Regions from separate parts of the Homo sapiens genome. Here region 1 is linked to region 2. The links come from fine-mapping of genetic effects on plasma protein levels. A gene starts in region 2. The other region holds a variant in brackets. All regions are shown on one strand. Distances are from middle to middle.

Region 1 (8,428 bases), 27 kb before region 2:
TTTACTTCAAGTGGAAAACCTTCAAAATTTAATGAATAAGTAAGTCAGGCAAAAAAAAATAATGTTCAAGATTTTTTTTTCCTTCTTGAGCTTGCCTAGCTTAGCTTCACTGTATAAAGTTAAACTTCATTTCTTTAAAATAATACAAAGCCATCAGAGTTTAGTAATTGTATTCTTTCTTTAGTTATTTACTTATCTAATAAGAACTTTATGTTTAGCCCATTTCCTTTAACTTAAAAACAAACACTGCCTTCATTGTACCAAATTACTCTTCACAATCATGGTTCATTTAATTCTGGGGGTTGTCAGGAGAGAGCTTAATTAAACCAGTATGAACTTAGATTTCCAGAGCCAAGTGGTTTCGGCTTGCCACATCAAGCCACAATCGTGATTTTCCACCAGCCATGTTTACAGTAGCCAAATATCCTCCTCAAAATGTCTTATTGTAGTCAGAATTGTTGTGGTAAACTAAATCCTTAGTAGGAAGTCATATCCCTTCAAAAATCTAAGATGAAGTAACTATAAAAAGACGTGTGAAAACACCTCAGAAAACTAGCTTATTTTAAAAACAATGCAATCAAAACTTATTTTCCTGTTATCTTTACATTTCTTGGTTTTCATAAGTTAAATATACAGTATTCACAGAAATTAAGCTGGTGGTTATGAATCACCAGGCAGCAACAGACAGTATACATAATTATTTGACGAGTGCATCCAACATATTTTAAACTAAAAATTGCAGTACAAAAATAAAACTAACACTGTTAGCATCATCTTCTGAGTCTGTAGAGTCAATCTTGAGTCAAGTTGATTACGAGGTTTTTTTCTATAATGTCCTTCAAAAAGAGCTGCTCTGCAGTCACATTGTGATACGCGTTCTAAAGAAGAAAAATACAATTACCATCATTCTTTCCCAATCTCAAAGTATTAGCAGCACCAATGGAGTACTTTATATCTAAAAAAATCCGAATAAAGAACTCGAATGTTAAGTAACGAGTTGCATGTACTTTTAACTTTTGATAGCCTTTTAAATTACTTTCCTTGCTGGTTCTTGTGCAAAAGCTTTCCCTACAGCCCACTCTTTCCATTTCAACTCTCACATAAGTAAGACTCCTTCATATCAAACCCTGGTAGACCGAATCATGGTACAATACAAATCTGGAGACCAAAATTTTGAGTTGTTCACTTTAATGGAAGAAGCCCCTAGAAATCAGTTTAAAAACAAACAAAATCAGCCTGGAGATAAACTATTATAATGCCTGGTTCAGTTTAAGATGTGTTAAAAATTACTGTTCTATACATGAATATCCAAGTTTTCTTCCTGAGGAAGTTGTTTTAATATTCTGCTCTTTAGATGACACTTGAAATACCACAAGTGCTACAGGAAAGTTTAGGGCGGAGGAGAAATCAGCCTAATCCAAAGTCTGTTGGGGTACCTCATTCTTGAAATACTTAAGTGCTTGTCTTACCTGGTGGGGACAGAGGGTGGGGGTGAGGGACAAAAGACAATACTAAATCTAACCTGATTTATACCACTTTCTCAGCTTATATAGTGGGGTGATTCAAGGGGACTGATTTCATGAGATATATCCATATACTTTTTATCAAGTAATATTTCAATATTAAAAGTATACAGATAACATTTTAATCCCATCACTTGTGATGCACTACTAATTTAAGTTAGAATTACAAAACTAGGAAACTCCTTCCCAGTCAAGTAAATTACAAATCCTTAGCCAGGCACAGTGGCCCATGCCTGTAATCCCAGCACTCTGGGAGGCTAAGGCGGGCAGATCACATGAGGCCAGGAGTTCGAGACCAGCCTGGCCAACATGGCAAAAACTCATCTCTACAAAAATACAAAAAAAAAAAAAAAAAATTAGCCGGTCGTGGTGGCGGGCGCCTGTTATCCCAGAAACTAGGGAGACTGAAGCAGGAGAATCACTTCAACCTGCGGGGTGCAGGTTGCAGTAAGCCGAGATCATGCCAGTGCACTCCAGCCTGGGTGACAGAGTGAGACTCTCAAAAAAAAAAAAAAAATTTAAACTAAAATTGTTAAAAAAAATAAAATACAAATCCTCACTATTAATCCCTATTCAAGAGAAGTGTGATCCAGTATGAAAGTTGGTAACCTTTTTGATCATGAAGATTCTCTTGTAGGGTTAAAATATTCTACACCATCTTGTCTACTTAAAAACAAATGAGAATAATTAAGCACAGCAATGCAAGGTGAATTTGTAATATCTCAAACACAGCAGGTTGCCTGAATTTCAATAGTGCAAATATAATATCTAAAGTAAGGTTCTGTACTTATATGGGTTTGATGACACTTGGCAATAACCATGAGGCCCATAAATTGGGATTTCATGCTGTAGTAAAATGATCCTGGACATGAGTTCTAGTTACAGCCCTTGGTAGCCCTGTAATCACCATCAAGCCCTCAACCCTTCAAAACGTGGTCCCTCAGTAAAATGAGTGTGAGAAGAGAAAATATGGGCTTTCCATCCCTCAAAGATTAGTCCAAAGCATATGTATATTACCTAAAGTACAGTATATTACCTTATTCATCAAAGACATGGTGGCATTCCCATAGTAGTGCAAAGGACTCTTGAGGTCAGAAAAGTTGTATTTAAAACCAGCTAGGTGAACTTCGTGACATATGTAAAACGCCAATGTGATGGCAATAATTCCTGTTGTTGGGTGTTTAGGTTTCTGGGGGAGGGGATGAAAAAAACTTTTTTAAGCAAAAGGAGCTACTTGTTACCAAAGCATATTTGGTTGGCTGAATCATATAAAACAGGGATTTCTAAACATTTAATAAGGAGAGAAATAACTAAACTCTCATTATAAGGCTCAAGCCCCAAAGAGTATGCATATATACCTTAACTCTAAAAAATATATAAACTGTGATTGAAATCTTAGGAAGTCTTTAAAATAAAATATAGCTGTGGTATTAGCCCAGAGGACAACTATCCAATGAAAGAATACTGTGAGGCTTAAGGAAGAGAATGTTGCTGTATTGTTTTAAAAAACACAAAAACATGATGAGTCAGGCTCCTTATGGCAAAAGCAAAGCCTGGGAATTTTGAACACGTGTATGAAATATAAGGACAGCTTCATTCACAAACGGATGGAATCATGATAAAAGACTTCATATAAATTCGCCTTCGAATAGCTATATTTTATACTCACCATTTAAACTAACTCTAGGGAAAGGCTAATCTAGTACTTCAATGATAAATTGTAACAGTATCTGACTAGAAAATAAATATTCCAAATGCATACATAGCAATATCACAATCTCAGCTGCACCATTATACTTTTAGAAAGAAAAACCAAGCATCCTCTTTCCTTATCTTACATATATCTTGAAAACCAGTGTGATAGATATTTGACAAGAGGGTCTTGGCTTTCAGAAATTGTAATTCTCACTGAGATGGCCTTCAAAGCGAAAAACAAGATACATCTTAAGCTTTTTACATAACACTTTCAATAAAGTGTTTCTTATAGTTCCCATTGAAATTACATATGACTTACTATGATTTTGAGGAAAAGAAAAAAAAATCGAAGAAGCACAACCAAATCAATTCCAGGAGGCAAACTTGTCCGAAAGCATTAACTGCCTTCAGCATAAAATTTTCTTTATCCTATGTACCATTGTAACCTAGGAGTCATTCAGCCTCATTGATCC[C/T]ATTGCTTTTTCCTTCTCCTTGCCCCTTTTCATGTCTTCTACTTCCTTTCTTCACATCTTAAGAGTCCTTCATCCGTCTTTATAACCATTCCTTTATATAGACCAGCTCTTCTGCAGCCATCACCCACAGAACCTATATTACCACCTGACAAACTCTTATAAGAGGAATAAGCACTGCAGTCACCCTGTACCCACACCCCAGCAACAGAATAGGGCAAGAGAAAAATACGTTTACCTGGTTGAATGTTGAATTTATGACCCAACTCTCAAACAGGCAGTAAGTATTGCCTAGCAATCCAGTTACGTTTGACTAGTAAATTTCCATTCCTACTCTCCAAGATGAGAATTTATAACTTTGTATCCTGCAACAGCCCTAGTCTTCTTCCTAATTTGACTAGTTAATCTTTATTTTTTTAAGGAAACAAAAGCAGTCAAAAGAGTGGCTTCATCATCCCAACTCCAAATCTACCATCTTACCTGTATCTTTACTCACATTTGCAGTGCTTATTCCTCTTATAATGGATGAGATGTAACTTCAGCAACTTTTCACTAGTGTATATTTTATCCCATATCACTTCTCAACAATTTTACTTCTGTACTTAACTACTTTCTCCCCTCATCATCAGTGTTTCTTTCTGCTGAACCATTCCCTTCAGCATATACACAGACCAAAAATAAAACACGCTTCTTCGATCCTATATCATCTTCCAACTATTGCTTCATTTCTACGATCCTTGTTCTAGCAAAAAGTCCACTAAAGATTTGTTGCTGCTTGCTCATGTCCCAGGTTCTCTTCAACCCAATTCAAGCAGGCTTTTTCCTTCTTTCTTGTTAATATATATCACCAATATGACCTCCACGTTTCTAAAACCAGGGTTTATTATTTACATTCAACCTCTGGACAGCATCTGACATGGCTGACTTCTCTTGAAATACAGCATTTGATTTCTGGGACACCATGTCCTACTGGGACTTTGATGTAGCTACAGCTAGTTCTAATGTCATCACTAAGTATGCTCAGGGTCTTCCTGTGCTTTTGGAATTAAAGATATTACCTAAAATGAAGAAGCAAGAGATATACCTGATCATACTTCACTTAGGAATATAGGAAGTGAAAACTCACAAAACACACATTCAGAAGCTGTCCTTTACCCTCAAAATTACTAGGAAGTCAGGTTTAAATTTAAAACATGTATGCTTTTTGACTTGAGCATTCCACTTCCAGAAGTCCATCCTACAGAAATCCGACAAATGGGCAGAAAACCCCTATAAACACATGTACTGCTATATTATTTAAAGAGAAGAAAATGTTGGATATATCTGAGTGTCTATAAATAGGGGAAGAGTTAAATAAAGAGAAAAAAGAAAATAACAACAATACCTATGGTATAATCATAATTATACTGAACAAACAAAAAGATTATGTGTTTATGAATGCATAGCAAATAGTCTGGAAGCACATAAAAGGTAGAAAAGCTTGAGAGGTTACATGGGTTGTAGAGGGAAGAGAATAGACTGGTGACTTCCTTTTTGATTTTTAATATTCCTTTATTTCAGTGTGCAACACTAACATTTGTTTTCAGCATATAACACTTTTGAATTTCTTAATCACAATTCTTATCATGCTAAATATACATCATGAAAATACATGATGTATATTTATTTCTTTGGATTTTTCCCTACTTTAAAAAGGGGTGAAAAACTCATTTCAACCAAGGTGTCATGTTATACAGTTACTCAAGCTTCCAGTAAAAAATATCTCTGCCACTGTATGGGTCTAGAGTATTGTTTTCTAGGGAAAGAAGGCAAACAGGAGTGAAAGTCAATGAGATTTCATTTTGAAGTTTCAAGAACTCTTTCAATATTGCTGTAGCTACCATTTCTTGAGAATTTAATGCCAACATTTCCTCTGACCACAGAAATGTTTCTGGACTACTTTATTGTCCTTCCTCACCTTTCCTCTGGCTTTCCTGTGATATTTTTATCAGAGCATCTCAGACACTTCTTTTTAGCCTGCAAAGCCATGCACTTGGCCTGAAGCCAGGCCAGCTACTCTGAGCACAAGCCTGCCCGTCAGCCCACCCAGTCAGACTCTCCTCACTGCAGAACACTGAAGACAGAGTTATGAAAGATAAATTGTTTCGGCATGCACAAAGAGACCCCAGGAAGGCCCTACAAGGGCAGGAAAAAAACCCAACTTAAAATTACATTTCCTTGCAACATAAATGAAAAACATAAAGATAATATCCATAGATAACTACTTTTACTAACTCAGAGATGGCCCTCAGAAATCATCTCATGAGCTGTGGTTCTCATACAGTTTCTGAGAGTTCCCAGGACCCTCTATCCTACCTCAGCCAGATCTGTAGTTTGAAACCATGCAGAGATAAATACATACCTGATTTTTGGGAAACACTTTTGGAAAATGAAGCAGTTCATAAGCTGCTGTTCTGATAATGAAAGGATCTAATATTCGGATTTGATAAGGTTTATAAATCAGGTTTAAGGCTGGTTTCTTCCAAAAACCATTAGTGTTCTGAAAGTAAAAAATATAGAGAATAGAACAGTGTGGCTGTCTGTTTTTTAAGGAAAAAAAGCACTAAAGGTAATCTGAAGGCAGAACAATTTTGCCTACTTACTATTTTGTCACCCATCAACAATTCCAACAGCCACCTTAAATCATGTGGCTTAAAAGCAGTGAGAATCACTGTCGTATTAGGGTCATTGTGAATAGGATCTGAAAAAACAGATTCTGGATAAAAAAGTCGGAAGGTTGTCCTTCTCCCAACTTCTTCTTCATGTCCTAAAACAGGACCATTATTCATTCTGTGGATAGTAAAACATACAAGATATGTAGACCAAGTGCAGTATCTGCCATTCCCATCACAGTTCTCAGAGGTTTCAGAGTTGGACAAACATCAGCCTTTTATCCTGTGCTCTGAAGCCACAAAGCAATAGATCAATCTTTCACACATAATGGCCAAGGAGATCATTCCTTTTCATGAAATAGTTGGTTGATCAAAGGCAGAAATGTTCATTTGTATTTGAAAATTAATTGTGGAGCCAATGATAATTCAGTCTTACCTCCAGGGGAACTGAAGACTAAATTTAAAAAAGTGGGAACACAGAGCCACAGGATACCAGAGTTGAAAGAGAACTTGGAGGACAAACCCCTGGAGAGAAAATTACTTGCTCAAAGCCACACAGTCATGTAGCACATGGATGTGTGTGACTGACAGGTAAGAAGAATCACATTTAAGTTGGTTTAAAGACCCATCAAAATTGTTGTACTCTGAAATAAGGTTAACAATATAAATCTGCTATATTATATTCAAGCACAACCAAATGAATGTCTATTGCTAGAGTAAACTAAAGAACCACAAAGGATCTACTGTTGGGTTTGTGTATGCTGAAAGCCAAGGTTGGACATGCACTATTTATGCACACATTATGAAGCCATGCTATAAAAAAAGAAATGCTTTGTTTCCAAAACAGTGTCCCCAAAGAGATAAATACTGTTTTGCCCTTTGCTACTGACTCTACGTAATATAAGACGAACAGACTTATTAACACTTGAGATGACTTTCAAAATGTTGTACCCATGATATTTTCCTGCAAGGGTTTCCTGTGGCTCTAAATTATCAGATTTAGACAATTATGGGTAGAGAAACCTGTGATTGCTTCAAAATTGTTTTGTAGGTAAATTATCACAGCTTCCTCAAAATGGATAGTAAACAGAAAATAAGGTGACCTCACCATGCAGAAACCCTAGGCAGCTTGTAACCCCACAAAACCCCCAAAGCTGCCAAACCATCCTAATGTATTGCCTCAGTATGCTAACTTTGCCATTCTTTAAACTATTCATAGCTACTCCTAACACACACACACACACACACACACACACACTTATCCCAGATGATGACCTTATCTTGACCTTTCACTAAAAAAATAGAGATAGAAAGGTCCGTATTTTCCCCTCACTACATCAGAGGGACTCTTGGTAGTTGTAACCACAATCCTGGCTCTCCTTTCCATTATGAAACATTAACCACACTTGTGTTCTGAACCCCCTTCCCCTCTCTTTTACCACCCCAATCTCTTTCTCATTTCCACCAGTTAACCAATGTACTATAGTGCCTCCAATCTTTTCAAAAGAAGAAAACAAACAAAAAAAAAACCCTGATTGCATAACCATCTCTAACTGCCATCTGATTTCTCAACTCCTCTTTGAAGCAAAATCCCTGGACTACATTGGTTTCTCTACATCTTCATCTGTACATTCAGGTGTACATTCTCTGCATTCCCTCTTCGACCTAGTCCAGCCGGGCTTCTTGCCACATCACGCCTCTAAGCCTGCTTTTATTGGGAGTGTCAATGAGCCTCAGGTCACCAGTCCAATGGTCACCACTCTGTCCTTATCTTGCATGACCTCTCACCAGCACTGGGATACAGTTGGTCACTCCTTCTGTCCTGGAACACTTTGCTCTCTTGGCTTCTGTGATCACCTTCTCCCGATTTTCTTCTTACCTCACTGGTGGATCCTCTTCATCTCTTTTACACATTCCTTTTTCTTTGCTCAACCTCTAAATTTTGAGTTCTCTGAGGCTCAGTCCTCACTCTCTTCTCTCTCTCTCAGTCTCTCCTTGGGAAATCTCACCCAGTCCATGGTTTAAATACAGCTTATAGGCCACACACCATCAAGATTTTAACCTGTTTATCCAACTGCCTACTCGACAA
Region 2 (8,000 bases):
GGTTCCATAATAGACCTATTTCAACGCCTGTGACTTTAAACAGGTACACTGCTTCTCTGTCTCCCTTATCAAGTTTCTAGTTCGTCTAAACAACTGCATGTGCCACTCCTTTCACTCCTATCCATGCCTATTAACCTCAATCATGGCGATGCAGTATAGAACCTGGGAGTCTGGTTGAATAAATTTCCAAATAATATGGCATTGCCTTCTTTTTAATGGTAAATATGTTCAAATGGAAATCTTAAAATAAACCACTCCCTTTGCCTTCATAAGTAGAATATACTAAACATAATTTAAACTTTTCTTGATAATATGGGGTCAGCTCAACAAATATAATTGTTCTGGGCTTTCTTACAGTTGAAACCCTCTGCAGCTAATGGGTGTGTGGGGCTATTTGCTAAGCAGTCCTAAACTGGCATGATTATCTGGTTGAGTTGCTTTTCACTCCTCCCTTGCTGTCAGCTGTTGGTTCTTGCTGCTATTAATGCAGTCACCACCCCCACATGCCACTATTCTAAATTAGTTAGAAATGAAAACTATGTCAGGAGAAAGCAAATAAATAAGCAAGTTAATGAGCAAACTTTAGTTCACACATACTTCTAATTAGGTATACATAATCCCTGTGAAGAGTCAACACTGGTTGGAAATCAGAAGACAAGATTCACAGCCTAACTCTACATATGGTGTGGGGACCCTAAGGTAAATCAGTCTACCTCTTCTGACCTGAGGGTCCTCATGTGTTTACAAGTGAGAACACACCATCTACCTCTTTGGGTTATTAGATGGTCCTGGAAGGCAGTTTACCATGGGCCAAAATAGTGAGGAACATCTTATTAAATGCTCAAATCAAACATTTAAGGCTCCACTAAGAATAACTTCATTTGGCTGGGCGCAGTGGCTCATGCCTGTAATCCCAGCACTTTGGGAGGCTGAGGCAGGTGGATCACGAGGTCAGGAGTTCAATACCAACCTGGCCAAGATGGTGAAACACCGTCTCTACTAAAAATGCAAAAAAATTAGCCGGGCGTGATGGCAGGCACCTGCAATCCCACCCATTCAGGAGGCTAAGGCAGAGAATTGCTTGAACCCAAGAGGCAGAGGTTGCAGTGAGCCGAGATCACGCCACTGCACTCCAGCCTGGGCGACAGAGTGAGACTCCCTTTCCCAAAAAAAAAAAAAAAAAAAAAAAAAAAAAAAAGAATGACATTTATGCAAAGATCCAACAAGGATAAAACTTACCAGTATCAGCAAAATTTTTTAATGTATTTACATCTAAGACAGTATATGAAGGTCTAGGGAAAGAAGTCAGTATTTACAAGTCAAAATTCCTATGTATTCTCCAAAACATACTCTTTGGGCAATTTATGTATTATTCTACAGAACACGGAGGTATGGGTAAGCGAGACTTGTGTTATTGTTTTGTTGTTTTTCATTCACTAATATGTGGTCTAATTAAAAACAAAGAAGTGTGAGAGAATGCTCTGTTTTCAAACAATAAAACGAACCCACTCTTGAACAGCTACTGCACACGCCACCTGAAAAACATTTAGGAAGTTAAGGCACTATCGTATTTCATGTACAATTCACAGCTTCAGTATTCAAGTTGCAAAGGACACGGGCCAGCCAGGATATCCTTGTGATAAACATGGTTCCTCTGCTTGCTCACAGGAAAAAGCTTCCACAAATAAACCAATTATCTAATTATATTGTATAAGTGGAAGGGCATTTTGCTTTGAGCAAAAACATTCAAAGAAAAAAACAGAATTTAAGAGGTTATCTGCTTTTAAAAAGACATAAGGCCCTTTAATATAGCTTTGATTACCAAAAAAAAGAGTTTTCAAGATCTTGACATTAAACAGGACCAATGCCAGCTTTGTGGCTGCAGATGCTCCTAAAATCAGGGTCCCTAAAACATCCTTTACAAAAATGTGGGTAGAGGATGGCAAGGGAAAGAAGGACTCACTGGCAGAGGACAAATGTTCACATATTCTCCAACTAAGATATGTAACCCAATGTATAAGTAACCTATATATGCCAAATTAAACTCAATCTTGACAAATGTTTCACTTTGCTTTAATAGTAAAAGCATATTTTGTGTGGAGCATCAAAGTTCATAAAAAATCTTTTATATGTCCATCCCTCCATTTAAGGCTCAAAATAAGCTTGTTAGATGGGTGTGCAGGTGTTGTCTTCTTGATGAATGAGGAAAACTGAAGGTTTATAAGGTTGAGTTGTCTGAGGTCACACAGTTTAAGGAAGACAGAAATAGATTTATGGTTCAATCATTTCTTTCTCAGAGTTCCATTCCTGGTGTTATCCTGTCTCTCAAGATAAAAAGCACAAGGCAAATCTAAAAGAGATAATTCTAATCTGAAAATTCCTAATGGTGTTCCATTGGTATCTTGAAGTCTAGAAGGGTAAATTCAGATATTGGTGAAAGGAGGTGACTCTAGGGCAGGCTCAAGAGTCTGCACCAGGCGGGGACTTGTTAACATGCACACTCCTGAGCCTCTACTTAATCTGAATCTCTGGGGCTCAGGAATGTGCATTTAAACAGCATCCACCAATTTGATTCTTATGCACACTAAAATTTTGAGAATCACTGCTCTAAGAAATACAATAGAACCATGGAAGAATTTCTGAAATACAGAGACTGTAACAGATACAGATCCCATAACTAGATGCTTTGTATTATTTTTTTTTACCCTAAATGCCTAGCACGTGGTAAATGCTCAATGAATAACAACTGATTAGAAGCATTAAGATGTATGAGTGCTTAGCCTGTGCCAAGGCATGTGATAATTGCTTTTGGTGTATTACCTCATGACATCCTGACAACCACCTTGCAAAAGAAGTGGTAGACTTACAATTCCTATTTTGTAGAGGAGGAAACCAAAACTCTGGGAGAAGCAACGACTTTGTTGAGCTGACAAGTAGCAGAACGAGGACTCAAATCTGTCTCTATCAGGCCACAGGCCATGCGTTATACTACCTCCCCCTAGATGTGAGCTTTCACAAGTGAGCACAGGCCCCTCCTTTTGCTACCAGACTAAACATTACTGAACATTTCTCCAACTTAAGCAATCCTGCAAGCTCCTTAAGCAATATCAATTCTAGTAATTGATGAAATGGAGGTAAAGCTTATAATACTTTTGATTCAAACTCAGCTGAAATAAAAGCCTGTTACTCCCAACCCTGTTCCCAGTTCTGCTCCTCCCAACCATGCTAGCATTGTTTATAAAAACAAACTCTACGGAGAAACACTTGAAAAAAATGTCAGGTTTTTTTTTAGACTCCCCTAATGCTTTCTCAAACCAAAGGGAGCTTGCTTTTCCAACCAGCTAGAAAAAAGCATGTTCAGCAATAATTCTAGAAACATTGTTCTACTTATCAAGCATTAGGTTAGTGCAAAAGTAATTGTGGTTTTTGTCATTTAAAACCAACCTAATAGAAAAACCCGGTGGGTATCTCAGTCAATATGCAACACCAAGGAAGAAAGACCCTTGGCGTTCTCTATTCCGGATGCTGAGCACACACAAACCTCACCTCCCTGTCTCCTCCATCCCCAGTTCTGTTTCAGTCTGGAAGCAGGTGCTTCCTAATGCCCATCTGCAAGCCCAGCCACCCCAGGCACTGGGACTGATTCTGACCCACAGAAAGAGAGTCTGAGGAGCCCTCGACTAGCAGCTTAACAGTTGGGTCAGGTTCCTGTGGATCCAGTAGTGATCCTGGTCATCTCATCCACTGGACCTGGGTTCCTGCTGCTGGGTGCTTAAACTATACCACACTTTTCCAACGTCTGCATTCTTCTCTTTCCTAGTCACCCTAGCAGCTCTGCAGCCAAACTTCCATTTTTTTTTTTTTTTTTTTAGTCACTAGGATCCTAAACCATGTCCCCATCTGCCCTGGGGTGAGGCACCCTTCTGTTCCCTGCTTCCTCAGTGGCAGACATACTACTCTTTCTACTACTAGGTCTCTTCTCAAACCCAACATGCTGCTGTTCAATAATACTCCTCAGTAACTCACATCTTTGTGCAAATAAGAGAAGCACATCCCCCTTCTACCTCCACACAGCCTGTGGGCACCTAATGTCTAATATCTCAGCAGCATCTAGATTTAAGCCACAACCTTCCCCTTAAGCAGGTAACCTTGTTCATGGCTCACCTCCATACCTTTACCAGGTGGCCCTGCTGACACCTGTGTCCATTCAGCCCCTGGACAGGCCGTCATCCATCCTAGTCTCTGCTGGTCTTCAGCTCACACTGACATACACTCCAGACTGTGTGGAACATGGCCAACAGATTTCACATCCTGCCTTCCTTCCTCTTTGTACTTATTACTCAATTTGTGATTATAATCTGCAGTCACATGCCTACATGAGCAAATCTACAACAGAACCTCCAACTCTAGCCATGCATTAATGTCTAGATTTTTTTTGGTCCAGCCTCATAGGTCCCCTAAGCCTAAGCCTCACAGACCCAGCCATCTCCATATGACCTGAGCCTTAATGTACAGGACTCCACAGTGATGAATGGAAAGGCCTCAGTCCTCCTCAATTCATTTACTACCTCTCTTTTAGGTTTGGTCCTTATTACTAATTAGGTAGTCCAAATGCGTGAGATCAGCTTCATTCATATCCCAAGGATCTACAACCTCTGGCAGCGATGATCATGTAAATGATAGCACAGTTTATTAACCACTTACTAAATGGCCAGCACAGTACTAAGCCCTTTTTCACATAAGGATGAAATCACGGATATTTTCATCCCCATGCTAGATATGTTTAATACCCAGAGCACTGGCCAGAATTCAAACTGAGATCTGATTTCAAAGCCCACACTTTGAAATTGTGGCTTATAGAAAACTATAATAACCATATTTTTAAGAGTATGAACTGTTAAATAATCATTTAATAATATCTTTTAAAAATAAAACAAGGGGATGATACACATTAAATTATGCATTTATCAAACACACTTCTTTAGAAACATTATAATATGAAAAGCTATTAATCTCATAATTAAAGAGAGAAATCCTAAGGAATCAGTAGTCTGGTTGATGGGATTTTCTGCTAGAAGGATGACGAAATTCTCAATAGACCATAATTAAAGAAATAAAAAACAGCACATATAGATTTTTTAAACATACAATATTACAACGAAAAGGCTAAATTTAATCTGAAGTTATAAACTAATGCTATTTAATACAAGTTAAGAAAAAAACTCTGACATTGCTGAGTAAATTAACAGAAAATCTGATTTATGCCCCCCTCCAAAAATATTGAGTTGTGTAGTGTCAACAAATTAGATCAGCTGTATACATTTTGACTGATTTCTAAGAATATAACTATTTTCTTTCTGCATTGCAGAAAGGGAACACGTATAATTAACTTTCTTTCCCTCTCCTCCCCCAACTCTTCTGCTAATACAATGATATGAAGCTGGTTCCGACATGCATATGCACAAACACCCTTCTCTTTCAGCTTTTCAACAAAGCCAGTGCTTTCACCAGTGCTTTCACTGTCCTTAGCACATGTAGACAGATCTTTTCACTTAATTAAAGATAAGCCTTCTGCCAAAGCAGATGACCAGATCCTCTCCTGAAAGTGGGGTGTGCTCACTGCAAAGAATATAAAAAGGAGAGAAATGACTTCTCAGCAGAATTTTCTTCTTTAATAGCACAACAGGACACACTAAAATCATTCAGCTAATAGCAACTATATGGGATGCTAAAAATAGAAGAACTGGAGTTCCTGTTTTCAAGAGCTCTCTCTTCAGACTCAGGTCCATTGCAAGTACACAAGTAAGCTTTTAGGGAACTTCTTTTGTTCCTACTGTTTATTCACATTTTCTTTCCATGCCCATTTATTCTCTTAAAGTAAAAATTGTCCCTGTATTCTCTTATTAACATCCTGCTAATAAGATATCAGCTTCCAAGAAGCATTAGATGTTGTTAACAGGTTGATGACTGTGGCTACTTTTTTTTTTTTTTTTTGAGATGGAGTCTTGCTCTGTTGCCCAGGCTGAAGTGTAGTGATGCAATCTTGGCTCACTGCAACCTCCACCACCCGGGTTCAAGCAATTTCTCCTGCTTCAGCCTCCCAAGTAGCTGGGACTATAGGCACGTGCCACCATGCCTGGCTAATTCTTTGTATTTTTAATAGAGATGGGGTTTTGCCATGTTGGCCAGGCTGGTCTCGAACTCCTAACCTCAAGTGATCCACCCACCTCGGCCTCCCAAAGTGCTGGGATTACAGGCATCAGCCACCATGCCCAGCCTGTGTGTAATTTTTAAAATTGCCTTTATTCATTTTTTTCCTTTTTTTGAGACAGGGTCTCACTATACTGTCCAGCCTGGTCTCTAACTTCTGGGCTCAAGTAATCCTCCTGCCTCAGCCTCCTGAGTAGCTGGGGATAAAATTTTTATACACTAAAATTCGCCACTTTTAAGTGTATCAGGTAACAACCACTGAAGTCATGATTCTAAACATTGTCATCAACCTCAAAAGTTCCTTTGTTCCTCTTTGTAGTCACTTCCTTCTTCCCACTTCCTGGCCCCTAGCAGCCTGATCTGCTATCACTATAGTTTTGCTTTTCTAAAATTTCATATAAATTGAATCATATAATATATATCTTATTTCTGACTTCTGTCAATTAACATAATACTTTTTAAAAAAATGCTCAAGTTGTTGCTTGTACCAGGAGTTCATTCCTTTTTGTTGCTAAATAGCATCCCATTGTATGGTCATACCACAATTAATTTATCAGTTCACAAGTTATTTATCAGGCAATACACATTTGGTTTCTTTGCAATTTTTGGTTATTGTAAATAAAACTGCATTAAACATTCAAGTGCAACTTCTTGGGTGGATATACGTTTTCATGGGCCATATGGTAAACACGTTTAACTTTATATGAAAACTTTATATTGCATTGTGGTGCCTATCTCAGTTATATTGCATGCTGGTGCTTATCTCAGTTTAAAAAAAAGCCCTACCTATACCAGTTCAAATTATTACTGCTATTGAATAATACAAATCACTGACCGAGGTAAGAATCTCTTATCTATTAATATCAAGAATTTCATAATGTGTACGTACTCGACTTTAGGATATGGAGAATAGAGCTCACAGTCTGGTGAAGGAGCTGTTACACTGTTTCAAAATTATTTCCATTATCTGCTACGAGAATTAAAGCAAACTATTTTACACCTCTGTTATTCAAAGTGTGGTCCATGGACCAGCAGTACTGGCATCACCTGGGAAGTTGGTAGAGCTGCAGAGTCTCAGCTCCAACCTTTGATCCACTGAGTCAAGTGGATTTTGGCAAACCCCATGTGATCTGTGTGTTTGAGAAGCACTGCTGGAGAAGGTCAGAGAAAAAAGGAATTGTATCCAGCCGAGAAGATCAGGGCTTCACAGAAAACAGTTTTTGAGGGGAACTGGCAGCTCATTCTAAGTTTTATGCTACATCTTTTAAGAGTCTTTAGGGCTTGACCTTTGAAAGTTTTCAATCAACAGAAGTTTCTCTGAAGAAACTAGTCAGATTCCCTTTGAAAATAAGTGGCTTTGAGAAAAATTTCCCTCACCACTCTAGGGAATGTTTGTGGGGTTTTTTGTTTTTTGTTTTTTGTTTTTAATTCCCTGGACACTGTCTTTCCTGTATTATTTTCAGTCTCATCCTTCCATCTACTATTAGTGTCAGTATGATACTACCAGTATTTTTGAGGGAAAATATGTAGGATTCCTCCATTCACATTACAGCTATAGGACACACACCTTATCTTGCATCTCCTTCTGATTCACCTAAGTGCCAACTGAATCATTGGCCACATATTTACAACATTTCCAATTATTGCAATTTACAACTTGAACCCAAGAATTACAGATCTTAGAGCTGGGAAGACCGCAAGAGTTGGGGGCATTTAGACACAGTGAGGACTTACGTATCATACTACAGAAGAGGCAGCCAGGATTTTGAAAAGTTTAAAAAAAAAAAACT

Evidence for each region. A credible set is the group of variants that fine-mapping cannot tell apart. PIP is the posterior inclusion probability: the model's chance that the variant is causal. Sun 2018 read protein levels with aptamers (SomaScan).
Region 1: its variant is the best candidate, but not a certain one, in a credible set for the plasma level of the ST3GAL6 protein (Sun 2018, PIP 0.86).

The regions. Positions count from the first base shown.
Region 1 is chr3:98,786,125-98,794,552 of GRCh38, reverse strand. It overlaps ST3GAL6 (ST3 beta-galactoside alpha-2,3-sialyltransferase 6), which reads right to left. Exons shown (of 10, transcript NM_001323368.2): 7 at 6,331-6,517; 8 at 6,090-6,227; 9 at 2,560-2,712; 10 at 1-878. The coding sequence ends at 792. Among named protein-coding and RNA genes, the nearest start is that of ST3GAL6, 27 kb to the right of the region's middle. The variant C/T (reference allele first, on the strand shown) is at 3,692.
Region 2 is chr3:98,759,604-98,767,603 of GRCh38, reverse strand. It overlaps ST3GAL6 (ST3 beta-galactoside alpha-2,3-sialyltransferase 6), which reads right to left and starts at 4,264. Exons shown (of 10, transcript NM_001323368.2): 1 at 4,165-4,264.